Homo sapiens: one gene and its partners. The protein of the gene in region 2 interacts with the protein of the main gene of each other region in a biochemical or structural test. Each region holds a gene or a part of one and is shown on either strand. Other genes may lie near its edges. The genes, in order: STAT3, SETD7 and H3-3A.

Region 1 (3,654 bases), on a different chromosome or scaffold from region 2:
AGATGGAGGTTGCAGTGAGCTGAGATCATGCCACTGCACACCAGCCTGGGTGAGAGTGAGACCCTGTCTCAAACAAAAACAAAAGATGAGTATCACTCCTTCAAGCCAAAGGTACTGAGAAAACATCTAAGAACTAACAACTTAAAGTTGTGAGAGATTCACAAAAGGATAATCAAAGCCATATAATGAAAAATATTACAGGAACACATGCTGTGCAGCTGGCATTTTGTTCTATTAATCCTGAAACCGAACACCATACTAAGTTTCTGAGGAGGGAAATTTTGCTGCAGAAGGTCAAAACCCCAGCACACCTGTTCTGACTTGAGTGTGAAAGTAACACCTCACCCTACAGGCCCACCACCCACCTGCCCTGGGGCCTCTCAGCTTCCCCATCACTAAGCCTTACTCTTTCCCTTAAAATCCACAGGGAAGAGTAGCCTCAAAGAACAGAAAATAGATGACATTATTTTGTCCCTTGGGCAGAAGGAGAAGCTGTGGCCTGAGACTCCAGGTCTACAATCATAGGAATATGCCCAGGTACCTTCAAAAAGATGACTGCTCTTTTGCTTTTGACATCAGAATCAGAGAGCAAGCAGATAGTATGGCAACAAATTTCAACCCCGCAACAGTGTACTGCCTGTGACACCACACCTGGAAAGAATGACCCTGGCCACCAACTCTACCCTCACCCTAACAGTGTCCCTCAGTAAAATCTCTACTGGAAATGGAAGTGGCATGGCCTACCTGACTTTAGTAGTGAACTGGACGCCGGTCTTGATGACGAGGGGCCGGTCAGGATGCATGGGCATGCAGGGCTGCCGCTCCACCACAAAGGCACTGAGGAAAGAGAAGATGGGCTCACGCGCCACGGCCATGACCAGAAGTCAGCCCGCCTCTCACTCTACCACGTGAGTCTTTAGGTATTTTTTAGATGAGGGAAAGGGACAAGGATGCTAAATTACCTTTTCATTAAGTTTCTAAACAGCTCCACGATTCTCTCCTCCAGCATCGGCCGGTGCTGTACAATGGGGTCCCCTTTGTAGGAAACTTTTTGCTGCAACTCCTCCAGTTTCTTAATTTGTTGACGGGTCTGAAGTTGAGATTCTGCTAATGACGTTATCCTGCCAATAAATTAAGAAAGATGCTAATTACCAAAGTGAATGTATACAGGTGAGATGGAGAAGGGGAAGGAAATACTGAAGACATGGAGACCACTACAATAAGAACAAGGAATTTTTTTATTGTGGTGAAATATATATAGCATGAAATTTACAATTTTTCATCTTAAGTTTACAGTTCAGTGACATTAAGAAAAGAGGAATTTTTCACCATGTTGGGTGGATGCTGAAAAAATAAATAAAAAAAGAAAATAATTTATTTATTTATTTATTTTTTGAGCTGGAGTGCAGTGGTGCAATCTCGGCTCACTGCAACCTCCATTTCCCGGGTTCAAGTGATTCTCCTGCCTGAGCCTCCTGAGAGATTACAGGTGTAAGCCACTGCGCCTGGCCTTTTTTTTTTTTTTTTTTTTTTTGAGATAGAGTCTTACTCTGTTGCCCAGGCTGGAGTGCAGTGGCACAGTCTCAGCTCACTGCAACCTCCGCCTCCCAAGTTCAAGTGATTCTCCTGCCTCAGCCTCCCAAGTAGCTGGGATTACAGGCACCCACCACCACTCCCGGATAATTTTTGCATTTTTAGTAGAGATGGGATTTTGCCTTGTTGGCCAGGCTGGTCTTGAACTCCTGACCTCAGGTGATCCATCTGCCTCGACCTCCCGAAGTACTGGCATTACAGGTGTGAGCCACCATGCCTGGCCAGAAAATAATTTATTTTACCTTTTATTACTAGTCCCTTCCTAAAATCTCAAATTTCTAAGAGGGGGCTGGGCACACAAGAAGTATTAAAATTTATACCACTAGGAGGCATTGATGGAGTTATCACTGGAAAATGACAAGCATCTGAGCCCAGATATGCAGAACACGAAATATGGAATTTAGCACTTACTTTACTCATCCTAACTTGTCTATGAACATAAAGACTCAGAAAAAGAGATTAGACAGCTCCCAAAGATGGGTTTGAGCCAGCTCTGTCACACACTATCTGTGCAAGCTTTGCCAGGCCCTTCACCATCATGGGCCTTAGCATCCCCTTGCATGAAGAGAAGGGCTTGAACTACATGAGCCCTTTCTTTTCTTTCTTTCTTTTTTTTTTTTTGAGACAGGGTCCCACTCTGTGGCCTAGTGCAGTGCAATGGCATGATCATAGCTCACTGCCTCCTCCAACTCCTGGACATGAGTGATCCTCCTACCTCAGCTTCCTGAGTAGCTAGAACTATAGGTGTGTGCCACCATGCCTGTTTAGTTTAGTTTAGTTTTTTGAGATGGAGTCTCACTCTGTCACCCAGGCTGAAGTGTAATGGCACATGTCTAGTTTTTTAAATTTTTGTAGGGATGGGATCTCACTTTGTTGCCCAGGCTGGTCTCAAACTCCTGGGTTCAAGTGATCCTCCCGACTCTGCCTCCCAAAGCATTGGGATTTACAGGCGTGAGCCACAACACCCAATCCCCATAAGCCTTTTCAATGTCAGCCTTCAACTGATCAAAGGACATGACATTATGTTTCAAAATATTGATAACATGCACAAGGAATAAGTGAATAGAGAGGGAGAAAAAGCTCATTAAATCTATCTCCAAGAATAGAGATATTAGGCCAGGTGCAGTGGCTGACACCTGTAATCCCAAAAATTTGAGAGGCCGAGGCAGGTCGATCTACTAAAATACAAAAAAATAGCCAGGCATGGTGGCATGGGCCTGTAATCCCAGCTACTTGGAAGGTTGTGACTAAGAATCGCTTGAACCTGGGAGGAGGAGGTTGCAGTAAGCCAAGATCATGCCACTGCACTCTAACCTGGGTGACAGAGTGAGACTCTGTCTCAAAAAAATTAAAAAAAGAGAGAAGTTAGCATCATTCCATCATTCTTTGATGGTTTATCACTAGTGTAACAAAGACCAAAAGACCAGAAAGACAGAAAGTGAAAGGAGAGGGAGGGGGACCGCTGCAGGGATTTCTGAACTCCTGAGCTCTTTTCTGGCACTTCTATCCTCCCATTCCCAGAACTTAAGCTTCTTCGTTCCCTGGTCAGGAAGCATTTAAAACTGCTTTCAGTAAATTAACAACACTCAGGGTTAGTGAGGATATGAATAGACAGGCATTCTCATGTAGAGTTGCGCTAAATTTCCAGTGCAGGCTCTGTATCTCAAGTTTCTCCTAAGGCAAGCTGGTGCAACATGCTCACTATAGGGCCTTGCACAGGAAGGGTTGCAGTAAGATATGCTGGATGAAGGTAAAAGTGCAAATTACAGAAAAGCATATAAAGGAAGATCCTGGGCTGGGCACGGCAGCTCACATCTATAATTCCAGAGCTTTTGAGAGGCCGAAGTGGGATGATCCCTTGAGCCCAGGAATTTGAGACCAGCCCAGGCAACAAAGTAAGACCCTGTCTCTATAAAAAATTTAAAAATTAGCCAGGTGTGGTGGTGCATGCCTGTAGTCCCAGCTACTGAGAAGGCTAAGGTGGGAAGACTGCCTGAGCCCAGGAGGTCAAGGCTCCAGTGAGCCATGACTGCATAACTGTACTCTAGACTGGGTAACACA
Region 2 (3,654 bases):
CCTGGGCAACAGAGCAAGACTCTGTCTCAAAACAAAAAAAGAGTATTTTGACTTAAGTTATGAACAAAATAAAGTATTAAGCAAAATATTTTCTAGCCAGGTGCAATGGCTCATGCCTGTAATTTCAGCATTTCAGGAGGCCAAGGCAGGTGGATTGCTTGAGCCCAGGAGTTCGAGACTAGGTTTTAGAGAAACCCTGTCTCAAAAAAGAAAACACAAAAATATTAGCCAGATGTGATGACATAGGCCTGTAATCCCAGCTACTAAGGAGGCTGAGGTGGGAAGATGGCTTGAGTCTGGGAGATGGAGGTTGTAGTGAGCCAAGATCGTGCCACTGCACTCCAGCCTGGGCAACAGAACAAGACCCTGTCTCAATAAATAAAAAATAAAATAAAATAAAGATAAAGTGTTTTCTAAGGTGTATTTTCTGTAACATTTTCTGGAAATTCAGTAACAACAGATGGGACATTTGAAATGCAAACAAAAATTAGAGCATTAATTTCCAACCATGGGTTCTGCCATATCTTTTTACTTTAATAGACTCCAGAAATATCATAAAATGCTATCAAATACTCAAAGGTAAGTTAATTTTAATCACCTTAATTTAAACAATATAAACCATAAAATACCTTAAAAAGCAGTTAGTGGAATTGTAGAATCAAGTAACAACAGTGCAGTAAGCTCTCCCAAATTAAAAATTGCTGGACTGGTTTTTACATATGAGAAACAGGAAATAAAACTAATAGCAACAATGAAAATTTCCACTATCTCCCTCTATGTGCCAAAAGAATTAAAAGCAATATATTTTGCCTTTATTAGTGATACAATAAAACCAATTTGTCTCAATTTGTTTTAATCATGATTAATTACTCCTTTCCAAAACAACGCTGAAAAATAATTAATAACGGATTCAAGGGCCAACAATCTAAGCCAATAGTGAGTAACAGTGAGAGGGCATGCCTCATAAACTCTTGGTGTCAGCTGTGGTGACTCTCAGGTTTCACAGCTCCCAAGTTCTAACACAGAATACATTTTACTCTTCATTGTGAAGAGTCACAGTATGTTACTTTCCAGCAGAGTGAACAGTCACACGGCTTACTGGGTAATATATCCAGCACACTCCATGACGAATGTTATCTTTATACTGCCCCTTGAAGATCAGTCTCCCATCTGTGTCATATTCCTGGGCTGGACCGTTCAGCTCTCCGTCTACATACGTGCCCTGGAGAACTCCCCCATCTTCGTAAGTGTAAACTCCCTGGCCCTGCAAGGCATCATCCACATAATACCCCTCCAGGGTGCTGTGAGGAAAGGAAAAACAAAAAGGAATAGTCAGACCATGACTTGACTCTCTTAGAAGAAAGGATCATATCCAAGGAACTGCATGCCCAGCTGTGTCAGCCCTGACATGGATTCAGCGCAGCCTCCTAAATTATCATCGACTGCTAGGAAAAGGTGCTTCATGGACGTGGGTAAGACTGAGAAGAAAGACGGAGATTTAATACCCAATCTCATGGTTCCTGGGAATCCTTTTACTCTGCTGGAGAAAATAGAGAAGAAAAAAGCTACTGATGGAAACTGAGAACAAGTTCACTTGAGTATGTTTTCAGGCAATAGAAATTCTGGTGTTACCTGTTCCACAAGCAAACCATTCATGTCTAATTTCCCTCAAGAGTGCTCCAGAATTCACTGGTAGTTCTCAAGGGTCTTTCAGATGGCTTGTATATAGTAATCTCTAATGATAGAAATGTGGCTTAAAGTGTGTGAATGTCTACACATTTGTTTCAAGTCACTAATGTATTATTTATCATTAATAGCCGTAATTGGTATCCAGTCAAATGAAATCCCTTCCATCTCCTTGGAAGACATATGGGGATTTATTTAAGTATATCTATATATCTATGTATGTATGTATGTATGTATGTATATCTATGTATATACATACATCCATGATCATGGCCAGTAGGGGCAAGTAAGGAAGACTGAATGCTCCACCCTGCTGATATCATTAGCATCCTGATAGTTTGAGACCCACGGTCCTATACCAGAAGAAAGCTCACAGGGATGCTCACGTGATTTTACCAGCACTTCTCCATCTCTCTCCTTGTAATATATATTTGCAAGTTCAGGAACATGTTTTCATTGTTATCCTCTGAAAGGCCCTATGCAATGAAACACCCAAAATTCCCTTTAAGTACTAAAATTTGGAATAGGGAAAGACCAACTCAAATTATTTTTAAAATTTAAAATGTAAGAAAATTTTGAAACAAAGACAGCTTGATTATTTTAACATAGGCAGAGAGTATTTATTCATTAATTCAACTAGTAATTTTTTTTTTCGAGAGAGGATCTTGCTCTATTGCCCAGGCTGGAGTGCAGTGGCATGATCATGGCTCACTGCAGCCTCGACCTCCTGGGGCTCAAGCCATCCTCCCACCTCAGCCTCCCAAGTAGCTGGGACCACAGGTATGTGTCACCACACCGGGTTAATTTTTGTTTTTTTTTGTAGAGATGAGGTTTTGTCATGTTACGTATGCTGGTCTCGAACTCCTGGGCTCAAGGGATCCACCCAACTCGGCCTCCCAGCCACAACTAGTCAACATTTACAGTGTGCCTTCTCAGTAGCAAGCATTGTGTGAGGCTCTAGAGCGGATAAGGAACAAAACAAACACAATGGTATAGGAGAGACTGGCAAGACACACTGTGAACTGGAGCAGATGGGACGCAAAGCGGGCCATCAGGACTTAGGTGGCTGCACCTGACTCTGTCTGGTAAAGTCTTGACTTATTTCAATGAACAACTGTGAATGATCTATAATTATTAAATGAAAAGCAGATTCTAAATAATGATAGCTTCTGGTTAAAAGGTAATTATACTATTTGTAGTATCCCAAGGAGATAAATAGTTTTCTTTCAGTTTTATTTGTACTATCAATGACAAATAGGCTTCCTAAATTCATGAAGAGAATAAAGTGCACTTTAGCATAGCTCTTGCATAAATAATCAAAATTCTAAAACAGTGAGGTTGGAAGTAATGAGATTCAACTGTCATTAGACTCCCACAATTAAAAAAAAAATCATTGGTGAAGGGTACTAATCAAGTGACATAATGATGTAATTTATGTAGTGCAAGAAACTATTCATTTATCTTCATTTTTAGGATTGCCAGGTATAATACAGGATTCCCAGCTAAGTTTGAATTTCAGATAAACAACAAATAATTTTTTAGTTTATGAATGTCCCAAATAGTGAATGGGATATAATTATACTTACTTTTTTTGTTGAGCAAATTCCAATTTAACTGGGTGTCCTGGATTTAACTAGATTTTTATTTGCTCATCCTGGCAACCCTATTGACTTTGGACTCTCAGCAGCATTCAAAATGTTCCTGTGTGAGTTTGGGTAGAATATTACTCCCTGACAGACTAGTCTGCCAATATTTCTCAGGGTTATGATCAAATCTACAAGAAACAGGTCTTGCAAATCAGACAAAAAATAATATGGACTTGCAGACATTTCCCCCAACTGTATTCAGTGGCTTGTCCTAACCTCCCTTACCCATGGAGCCCATCATCCCATCTATCAGAGTACGAAGAACAAACTGCTATTTCCCTCTTAGCCCAACTGACTCAAAGTACACAAATGCAAACTCTTA
Region 3 (3,556 bases), on a different chromosome or scaffold from region 2:
TAGTCAAAAGATTAAGTTATGGCTAAATGTTTAAGAGCAGTAAGAATGCAAGCCCAGTGTCGTATCTTACTGACATGCGTCTATTCTTGGCATAGTTATTAACATTTCGTATCACTTCTAGGGCAGTTTCAAACACTCAAACGTTACAACTAATGGGATGTGTTAAAAGTCTTAGAAGGTTTAATTATCCTCATTTCACATTAATTGTACCAACACTAAATAAAACAGGGCTAAGAATTAACTATTAGTGCTTGAATAAATTCAGGGTTAACTAATAGAGCATCTTAAAATAGCCAGATCTTGAATGCATTAATTTTTGAGCTAAAGACTGTTACACACTCTCATTTGTTATTAAACATTCATGAAAGTTCAATCTACTTACAGATTCCACTATTTCCAGGTGATCCTGTTGATTAGCTTTTCGAATTATTGGTTCAGAAGACAACACATCCAAAGAGTTAAGACCACTGGGTAGTGGCAAGCTTCTAAAAATTAGAAATAAAGCCAAGTTCCTTTTGCCACCAAGTCTATACTTTCCTTCTCTCTCAATAAGTCTCACGTCTCAGATATAAAGTGACTATTAAAGGACTTAATACTGAAATTATTTGGAATATAATTGTAGGGCAAGGCTATAATAAAGACCAAAAGCAGGTATAGTTTAATGTATTTTAATAGCAAACTTACAGGAACAGCACAGAAGACAGACAACATTAAAAACATGTACTTGCATGTAGGACAACTCAGTTAGAAAAGTATAGTGAATGGATGGAATCTACTGTATGATAAAAATGCTACAAACACCATTTAGTTGCCATCAATAAGAAATTTACTTGTTTTAAAAAAATCCAAATGCTGGCATTGTCCAGAAAAATTTAACAGGTTTATTTATAATTATTATAAAGTTGAACCGCTGAAACTTGTTCACTGAAACATTTTAACTTGCATTAATGCTTTACGTCTCCGCATTTATATTAAAAATTCACACACAAATGAAAATGGAAAAACTGCCAATACCTGATTTCTGTCCCCTATTTTTCCACTCGCAATCATATACTTAGGTACCTTTTGACCCCATGGAAAAAAAATATCTAACGTTCAGAACTACCAATAACAGGAAGAAGAGAAATTTTTTTTTTTTTTTTTGAGAATGAAATGTTTCCCATCATAGTGGATTCTTAAGCACGTTCTCCACGTATGCGGCGTGCTAGCTGGATGTCTTTTGGCATAATTGTTACACGTTTGGCATGGATAGCACACAGGTTGGTGTCTTCAAAAAGGCCAACCAGATAGGCCTCACTTGCCTCCTGCAAAAGGAATGAAGAAAAAATTACTGATGATGTTATTTCCAATAGTTAAGACCCAACTATACGAATTAAAACAAAAAGGTTTTTGAACCCTTTAAAAAAATGACTGGGCAAGATGCTGACAATTTTACCAAATGCTTACATTTTACAACCTGTGGGACAAAGCTCAAAAGCAGCTTATGAAAAAAAACAAAAGCTTAAGTCAGTAAATCTTTTATCAAGTTACACAAATCAAATTACTTTGTTACTAGGAAACTTCAATTTTTCTAATGGTAACATGATTTCTAATAAACTGAAATGTCACAAATAAAGCAAGAAATCCAATTTAACACTCTCATTCTTATAAACGCAATCATGTCCAATCCAAATACCCCATCCCAGCCTAGTCTCCTCCTCACTCTGAATCCCATTCACACAGTATGTGAACCTCTGCCTTGTCCAGTAGTATAACATGGTGAACAAGTGGTTTTTATCACATGCTTCTCATCTATGTTCCCTTTCATACCTGTTTTATCATAAGAGTACTTTTGATTCCAGAACATATCACAAGTTAGTTCCGTATTTCTTTCTTTCTTTCTGAGATGGAGTCTTACTCTGTCGCCCAGGCTGGAGTGCAGTAGCGCGATCTCGGCTCACTGCAACCTCCACCTCCCGGATTCAAGCGATTCTCCTGCCTCAGCCTCCCGAGTAGCTGGGACTACAGGTATGCGCCACCATGCCTGGCTACTTTTTTGTATTTTTAGTAGAGAAGGGGTTTCACCATGTTGGTCAGGCTGGTCTCGAACTCCTGACCTCGTGATCCACCCACCTTGGCCTCCCAAAGTGCTGGGATTATAGGCGTGAGCCACCGCGCCCGGCAGTTCCTTATTTATTTATTTTGAGACGGAGTCTCTCTTTGTTGCCCAGGCTGGAGTGCAGTGGCAAGATCTCAGCTCACTGCAAGCTCCACCTCCCAGGTTCATGTCATTCTCCTGCCTCAGCCTCCCGAGTAGCTCGGGCTACAGGCGCCCACCACCACGCCTGACTAATTTTCAGTAGAGATGGGGCTTCATTGTGTTAGCTAGGATGGTCTCGATCTCCTGACCTCGTGATCCTCCTGCCTCGGCCTCCCAAAGTGCTGGGATTACAGGAGTGAGCCACCGCAACTGGCCTGGCAGTTCCTTATTTATATACTTTGATCTATGCCCCGGAAACATGCCCCTGTCCTCTACCAAGTACCTTCCTCTACGTACCCCAATTTGTAACAGCATTTGTTGCCCTCTAGTACTAGTATCGATTTCTCTGGTTTTTCCCATTTGACTGTAAGATCCTTTCAAGTTATCTTATTCCTACTACCACTTAAAAATGACAGTGTATGAATCACTCATTGACACTTAACTTGTGAAGAGGAAAAAGGGGCGTTTCCACTTAGAATTAACTCATAACTCAAATTCTTAGTATACTTATAGCTGTCTGAAAAGCTGAAGAATCTTTTAGTCTAAGCCAAAACATCTGCTTACTCTTTTTGTTTTTGTTTTTTGAGGTTTGAGTCTTGCTCTGTAGCCCTGGCTGGAGTGCAGTGGTATAACCTCGGCTCACTGCAACCTCCACCTCCCGAGCTCAGGCAATTCTCCTGCCTCAGCCTCCCGAGTAGCTGGGATTACAGGCATGCACCATCACGTCCAGCTAATTTTGTATTTTTAGTAGAGATGGGGTTTCACCATGTTGGCCAGGCTGGTCTTGAACTCCTAACTTCAGGTGATCTGCCCACCTCAGCCTCCCAAAGTGCTGGGATTACAGGTGTGAGCCGCCATGCCCGGCCTGCTTACTCATTTTGAAATGGAGAAATTACCATTTTAAAAAATAATCATAAATCCAACAGTTTTGGATCTGGAGCATGAAATGATAGGTTAGTTGGCTCTCTCTCCTTTTCTATAAGGAAAAGTTATTTCTCTGCTGAAGATATATTAAGGGAGAAAACAGTCTTATAGTTGCATTTTTATTCTAATAAAAAAAATTCCAGACCAGGTGCCGTGGTGGCTCACGCCTGTAATCCCAGCACTTTGGGAGGCCGAGGCAGGCAGATCACCCGAGGTCAGGAGCTTGAGACTAGACTGACCAACACGGAGAAACCTTGTCTCTACTAAAAATACAAAAAGTAGCTGGGCGTGGTGGCATGTGCCTGTAGTCCCAGCTACTTGGGAGGCTGAGACAGGAGAATTGCTTGAACCCGGGAGGCGGAGGCTGCAGTAAGCCGAGATTGCACCACTGCA

The links.
Region 1: of the proteins of SETD7 (region 2) and STAT3, one has a biochemical effect on the other in vitro, tested with the Homo sapiens proteins (one study listed by BioGRID).
Region 3: of the proteins of SETD7 (region 2) and H3-3A, one has a biochemical effect on the other in vitro, tested with the Homo sapiens proteins (one study listed by BioGRID).

The regions. Positions count from the first base shown.
Region 1 is NC_000017.11:42,332,929-42,336,582, forward strand, and holds part of STAT3 (signal transducer and activator of transcription 3), read right to left. Parts: intron 1,122-3,654; coding exon 963-1,121; intron 838-962; coding exon 745-837; intron 1-744. UniProt on the Homo sapiens protein: Signal transducer and transcription activator that mediates cellular responses to interleukins, KITLG/SCF, LEP and other growth factors. Once activated, recruits coactivators, such as NCOA1 or MED1, to the promoter region of the target gene.
Region 2 is NC_000004.12:139,532,066-139,535,719, forward strand, and holds part of SETD7 (histone-lysine N-methyltransferase SETD7), read right to left. Parts: intron 1,302-3,654; coding exon 1,100-1,301; coding exon of another isoform or gene 1,064-1,099; exon of another isoform or gene 500-1,063; intron 1-499. UniProt on the Homo sapiens protein: Histone methyltransferase that specifically monomethylates 'Lys-4' of histone H3. H3 'Lys-4' methylation represents a specific tag for epigenetic transcriptional activation.
Region 3 is NC_000001.11:226,069,099-226,072,654, reverse strand, and holds the end of H3-3A (histone H3.3), read right to left. Parts: intron 1,305-3,556; coding exon 1,176-1,304; 3' UTR 636-1,175; downstream 1-635. UniProt on the Homo sapiens protein: Variant histone H3 which replaces conventional H3 in a wide range of nucleosomes in active genes. Constitutes the predominant form of histone H3 in non-dividing cells and is incorporated into chromatin independently of DNA synthesis.